Homo sapiens: one gene and its partner. The protein of the gene in region 2 purifies or fractionates together with the protein of the main gene of each other region. This does not show direct contact. Each region holds a gene or a part of one and is shown on either strand. Other genes may lie near its edges.

Region 1 (4,038 bases), on a different chromosome or scaffold from region 2:
TGAGAAGGTTTGAATCTGTGGCGAGGCAGGGGCATAGAGGAGGGGACGGGAAAAAGAGACAGGGTCGTTGCGATTGAAGATGTTACTTGGCTTGAGTACAAAGTTCATAGCTGCATTACTCACAAGAGCTGAAGTTTGGGAACAACCCAAATGTCCACCAACAGATGAATGAATAAACAAAATATGGTGTCTGTATGTGATGGAATATTACTCAGCCTTGAAAAGGAATGGAATTCTGATACATGCCACACATGGATGAACCTTGAAAACATGGTACTAAGTGAAATAAGCCGGACACAAAATGTCACATAGTCTACAATTCCTCTTAATATGGGGTTCCTAGAGTAGTCAAATTCATAGAGACAGAAAAACAAACAAACAAAAGGACAAAAAACCAAATTTGTAGGACAAAAAGTAGAATGGTGGTTACTGGTGGCTGGAAGAGTGGGGGAATGAGTTAGTGTTCAACGGATTCAGAGTTTTAGTTTGGGATAATGAAGAAGTGCTAGGATGGATGGGGGTGATGGTTGCACAACAATGTGAATAGACTTAATGCCACTGACCTGTACACTTAAAAATAGTTTTTAAAATGGTACATTTTGTTATGCATATTTTGCCACAATTATAAAAAAGCTTAAAGAAATTAACCATTAAACATGTTACTTGGTTGGGAAAAGGTTTTACAGCAACTTCACAAGATAGCTACTCTTGTACCACAAGGAAGTGGCCATGAATGAAAATGGGAAGGGAAAAAAGATAAGATTAAATATTTATCTTTGACTGATCATGTTGATTATTCTAAATACAAAATAAAATTGGAAATCACTTTTTAAGTGATGTATTTAATGGTGCTTACTACATGCCAGCTACTGTTCTAGATGCTTTATATATTTACTCATTTATTCCCCATATGATCCTGGAAGATAAGTTGTTTCTCCCATTTACAGCAGTGGAAACTCAGGCCCAGAGAGGTTAAGTAGCTTGCCCAAGGTCACACAGTGCAGAAGTGGCAGCAGTCTCTTAACCACTTCGTTTTGACTTTTTCTTCCTTTAAAAATTTTGTAAATGGAAGTAAATGATAGAAAATAAACACATGTAACATTTTCATATTTCCTTCTACTTTGTTTTCTTCTCATATACAAGAAATACAAAATCAGAGGCAATGTTTTGGTTCTCTTTCTACCCTTCCCTAATTCTCCTTCCCTACCTTCCCAAGACTACTGAGATCACTAATTTTATCTGTATCTTTCTGGTCTATGTTTTTGTATTTTTCTCTAGATACATATCCATAAACAATATATAGTATTGGTTTATATTTTCAAATTTACAGAAATGCTATCTTACATATATAATTTTTCAGCCTGCTTATTTGGCACTCAGCATTATGCTTAGATCTACCTATGTTCACAGGCATACATCTAGTTTATTCCTGTTGACATTGTATAGTATTCCACAGCATGACAGCACCACATTTTAACCATTCCCCTCTTCATGGACACTCAGGTTATTTTCAGTTGTGCCTTCTTAGAATCAATGCCACCGTGAACATCCAGGGGTAAGAGGAGTTCCACCCAAAAGCGAAACTGCTGATTCCGAGGGTCAACTTGGACTTTCAGAGTTTCCAGAGGGAATTCCAACTCCTGCACGTGGGCAGCAGACTCCCAGCTCTTTTCCCTCTCTCTGGATCTGGCAGTAAATGTCTAAAGCTTAATTTATGTCCTGCAGGCTGTCTCTTTGTGGCCAAACGGAATCTCTCCCTGCCCCACTGTGCAATGGCCCTGTCAGCGGCTGACACAGGGGAAGAAAGGAATTGTTTGAATGTGGGCTCACAACACCAGCAAACACCCAGCCTACTTCATTCAAGGCTGACAATGAGACCAGGGGCTAAGCCTGAGTCATGGAGGTGGATGGGAGGGGGCAAGACAGGAGCGCAGGCAGAGAACAGAGGCGGCAGGAGAGGGGGCCATGCTTAGGAGAGGCTGAGGGGACTGACCAGGAACCAGACACTTGGAGTCATCAGAACCCTCACACAAAGCCCTTAACACCGTTCACTGAGGACCACAAGAGCTTATAAAGTCAAGACTCTCGTGTCGCATTCTCTGGCAGCATTAGTTCCGGGTTAAGTTTGCAAGGTGGCCCTGGGTTCTGTGGAGAAGCCAGCCCAGGGTCAGGGCGCTCTCTGACGGCTTCACTGGACTTCAAGCAGCCACCGGGAGTATTTCTCCGCACTTTGCATGGCACAGTTAGAAATCATACTTTTAAGCCAGCTGTTCTCATTTCAGAACCCACTTGCTCACTGGAAAAAATGAAAGTCTCTATCTAGCTACCCTGGGATTTTGTTTTCACCTGTGTGCATAGCAATGGCTTGCTGTCACTTCCATTGGTGTACTGGACTGTTGGTACTGAATTAAATGAGACAGGGAGTATTTAGCTGCTCTCGCCTTCCCCTTGATGGATTGTTTCTCAGTGATTGATGTTTATCCTTGTGCCTCTTTCCCCCCTCCAAAAAATCAAATACCATCAAAACCGAGAGTCCATCAGACCCCAGAGACCTGAGGATAAACCGTAGTAAGGCAGCACGTGACTGTCCTTCCCCTCCTGCCTAAGATGCCACGTTAAGGAAACAGTCAAGGGCAATTTCACTCACCCTTGGAAGGAATCACGGTGGTGAAAACTTCTATGTTCTCGTCACTGCAGCTGTAAATCTGATGCATCATTTCAGCCTCCTCTTCCCGAAGTGCCTGGGAACTGGAGGCCTCTGTCTCTGGACCCCTAGTCGCGAGGCATCCTAATCCAGTCTGGCTCAGGGATCATTGTGCGGGTCCACAAAAGACAGGCTGGTGCTATGAGCTCATCTCGTTCCAGTCTTCACTGCAACATTTTCTAAACCCATCTGTCCTTTTTTTTTTTTTTTTTTTTAAATGAATCCTATTATTGCAAACCTTTGATTGAGCCTGGAGGCTTCAATCCCCTCCCAGCTAGGATGTATTTAACATTTTTATTTTGCGGTGTCTGCCGCAGTGAATTTGGAAGCCTTTTGTGAGGTGACGACGAAGTGAAATCGCCTACTCTGTTAGCGCCAAGCTTGGCTGGAGAATTTCCACCAAAAAGGAAACGTGAATTTTGGTACCAGCAATTCCCTTTCTCATTTCAGAAATGAAGGGGCTTTTTTTTTTTTCTCCCCTCCAGGAGAACGGGATATTCAGTAATTTGTCATGTGCTAACTTGGCTCTCTTAGAAGTTTCTATTTTAAACAAAAGGACTGTTTCTCCAGTGTTTTCCCCTCATGCCATTACATGACAAGGCTGACATTTCTCAAGGGTCCTGTGTTTGGTACCTCCGCGTATAACCCTTAGGTGCTCACAGAGACATGGCAACAGGCAGTGCCCCATGTTCAAGGAGCAAATTATAGAAAGTTATATTTGTATTACCCTATATATCCTAATATATTATATAAACCCTATTATGCTACATATACAGGTTACAGATTATATACTGTCCCGTATATCATATTTATTATATATGTATGTATATCATATGTATATATGTATGTGTATATATATATATCATATATATTTGTGTATGTATATATATCATATATATTTGTATATATGATATATGTATATATAGCATATGTATATATTTGTATTACCCTATATATATTTGTATTACCCTATATATCCTAATACATTTATCCTATATATTTATTATCTTATAAATCCTATTATGCTACATATAGAGGTCACAGGTTATATACTGTTCCATATATCATATATATCATGTGTATATAATATCATATATATCATGTGTATATATCATATATATCATGTGTATATATATCATATATATCATGTGTTTATATGATATCATATATATCATCTGTATATATGATATCGTATATGTGATACATGTACAATGATCCCTGAGCCGGACTGGATTAGGATGCCTCGAGACTAGGGGTCCAGAGACAGAGGCCTCCAGTTCCCAGGCACTTTGGGAAGAGGAGGCTGAAATGATGCATCAGATTTACAGCTGCAG
Region 2 (3,438 bases):
CCCTTGTTGTTAGGAGATATATCTATATACTGATGCACAGCGGGAAGCCATCTGAAACTTTCAGAAGGTTCAACAATTAAAAAAATGTGTAGCCGAGTGCGGTGGCTCACGCCTGTAATCCCAGCACTTTGGGAGGCCAAGGTGGGCAGATCACCTGAGGTCAGGTGTTCTAGACCAGCCTGAATAACATGGAGAAACCCCGTCTCTACTAAAAACACAGAATTAGCTGGGTGTGGTGGCACATGCCTATAATCCCAGCTACTCAGGAGGCTGAGGCAGGAGAATTGCTTGAACCCGAGAGGAGGAGGTTGTGGTGAGTGGAGATCGTACCATCGCACTCCAGCCTGGGTGACAGAGGGAAACTCTGTCTCAAAAAAAAAAAAAAAAGTGTAAATAGAGAAAACATGAATGTAGCAAAAGTTAACAACAGGGGTGAATCCAGGGAAAAAGTATAAGGATGCATACCCTTTCAATCTTTCTGTAAGTTTGACACTTTCAAAACAAAAGTGAGGCAGAAAAACTTCCTGGCTTGCTTTCAAGACACCCACAGGTACCCGATTTTAAGCAAGTCAAATTCCTCCATCAAAGCTTGAAAGCCACCTAACCATCAATACAGTATTTTTTCCCCTTCACCTCCTTTCCCTAGACACTTTCTTAACTCTTCTTCTTCCTCTCACTTTCCTCATAACCCAACGACAGTGACAGTAATAGTATGTGCATGGTTTTGACATGTGAAACTGGCTCTGTCTTGGTGACCTAGCAAGTTCTTTTACTATACATTCTCTTTAGACTAGCAGAATAGGAAAATATGCAGTAGCCCTAGAAAGTCACCATTTATCCATTATTCCCAAACTTAAAGTTTTAATTCAGTGTCCTAGGACTGCACAAGCAAAAGCTATCACAGCAACATGCTACAGGAGGCAGTATTTCACAATGTAAGCACTAACATTATTGAGAGGACACCAGGTTTGAATCCTGGCTCAGCTATTGACTGTGTATCTTTAGAAAATCGATGTGTCTTTTTTTGAATCGCATTTCTTTGACCTGTAAAATGGGAAGTATAACAACCTCTTTTTCTTATAAGAATATCATGTAAGTTGTAGCTAATTCTTCTCGACCAAAGGAGCTTTCTGTTAGATGTATTAGAATCTGGATCCAAACAAGAGCCATGTATTGCATTTGCTTATTAGTTCTTTTAAATCTTTTTCAATCTAGAATAATGTTCCCTGCCTCCACCTTTGTCCTAGACTACCCCAAATTCAAGATTTGCCTATTGCTTTGTGTGTGTGTGTGGAGCCTTGTTCTGTGGCCCAGGCTTGAGTGCAGTGGCACAATCTTGGCTCACTGCAGCCTCCACCTCCCGGGTTCAAGTGATTCTCCTGCCTCAGCCTCTTGAGTAGCTGGGCCTACAGGCGTGCGCCACCACACCCGGCTAAGGTTTGTAACTTTAGTGGAGACAGGGTTTCGCCATGTTGTCCAGGCTGGTCTTGAACTCTGGACTCCAAGTGATCGGCCCACCTTGGCCTCCCAAAGTGCTGGGATTACAGGCATTAGCCACCGCACCTGACATGTCTATTGCTTCTTGATATCATTTAACTTGTCCCTCAGGCCTTCACTTTTTAAACAAATTAAATGTTGTTTCCCCTCATAACAATCTGTTTATAACTCCCCACAAGTCAGGACAAAGTTTTTCACCCTTAGCTCGCCATTCAGAACCCTTCGTATTTCATTATCTTCATCTGGCTACAGTCTCCTAAAGTACTTAACGAAAACAAACAAACAAACACAGGTATCATGCTTTCCCTCTTCTGCACAAACCACTTTCTGCTTAGATTACCCTACCCTCACTTCTTCCCTAGGACTAAGTTTTGGTCCTTCTAGAGACTCAGCCCAAGACACATGTTCTCAAGGATAATTTATTATATGTCAGGCACTATGCTAAGGATCTTCCATATAGTCACAGGTTCAATTAAACCATCAGAACAACTCCGTAAGTTAGGAGCTATTATCCTCAATTAGAGCTATAAAAGCCTAGAGCTGTAAAAGCGGAGTCTACAAGAATTTGAACATGCTTATCCAACATTACGCTAATTGGCATAACCACTGGCATGATAATCACTAAGTTGTACTGCTCCTTCTTTACACTCGCACGGCATCCTATGCAGCCCTCTATATATCAAATCAACTTAGATTTTTCATATTTGATATGTTCAGTTGTTCATATTTAATAATGTATCCCAAATATTTTAAAAGGGAAAAATGGGCTTACTGATCCAACACTACAATGGAGAAAAGAGATAAAATACAAACTGAGAGCTAACAATACCTAACAGAATTGGGTTTTCATCCAACTCTAACACTTAGCTAGCTACATGTACTTGGTCAAGTTAATTTCTCTGAGTTTCACTTTTCAGAAAGTAGGAAATAATACTGTCTCAGGTTTTAAGCATAAATGAATAAATTATCTAAGACACCTGTCACAGTCCTTGGCATTTAACCCATGTACAATAAAAAATATTGTAGGACTATCTCAGAAAATCTCTCAAGAGGTCATACAAATTTAGCTGAATCCACATACTTCTATTATAGCATATTATAGTTGATGTATTATATGTAATACATACATATATAGAGATAACCTATATTTACTTACATATAAAACACATTGGGCCAGGCGTGGTGGCTCACACCTGTAATCCCAGCACTTTGGGAGGCCAAGGCAGTGGATCACTTGAGGTCAGCAGTTCGAGAACCAGCCTGGCCAACATGGTAAAACCTTGTCTCTCCTGAAAATACAAAAATTAGCTGGCAGTGGTGGCGCATGCCAGTAATTCCAGCTACTTGGAAGGCTGCAGCGGGAGAATTGCTTGAACCCTGGAGGCAGAGGTTGCAGTGAGTAGAGATCGTGCCACTGCACTCCAGCCTGAGCAACAGAGCAAGGCTCTGTCTCAAAAAAGCAGCACATTGACATTTCACCTAAAAGCTGTTATGGCTTATAAGGTTGCTAGTCCTGAAATGATTAGTAAAGGCAGTAACTTCCAAGGGCTCACTGTAGTAGTGGTGTGCTTCAGAGAATTTTCCTATACTAATTTTGGAGTAAGACAGAAGTTTTAGAATTTTAAAATACATCCTTTATTTTAAATAGCCCTCCATATTGGCAAGTTCAGCATCCACTAACACAATTAACTTCAGATAGAATCGAAAATACAGTATTCCTGGGATGCAGAACCTGCATCCACTGGTCTTGAGCATTCATGGATTTTGGTATCTTCGGGTGCCCTGGAACCAATGCCCTGTGTATATTGTATATCCAGGGATGAGAGTACATTTAACTTGTGAAAAATTCTAACACAACACTACAGAAAACATAGAATAATGGCCGGGAGTCGTGGCTTCAGGGCTGTAATCCCAGAACTTTGGGAGGCCAAGCTGGGTGGA

Evidence for each region. The genes of interacting proteins can lie anywhere in the genome.
Region 1: the proteins of TRIM61 (region 2) and VXN purify together in Homo sapiens (affinity purification with mass spectrometry; one large-scale study listed by BioGRID and IntAct). This does not show direct contact.

Annotation. Positions count from the first base shown.
Region 1 is NC_000008.11:66,492,328-66,496,365, reverse strand, and holds the start of VXN (vexin), read right to left. Parts: upstream 2,801-4,038; 5' UTR 2,718-2,800; coding exon 2,648-2,717; intron 1-2,647. UniProt on the Homo sapiens protein: Required for neurogenesis in the neural plate and retina. Strongly cooperates with neural bHLH factors to promote neurogenesis.
Region 2 is NC_000004.12:164,971,220-164,974,657, forward strand, and holds part of TRIM61 (putative tripartite motif-containing protein 61), read right to left. Parts: intron 1-3,438.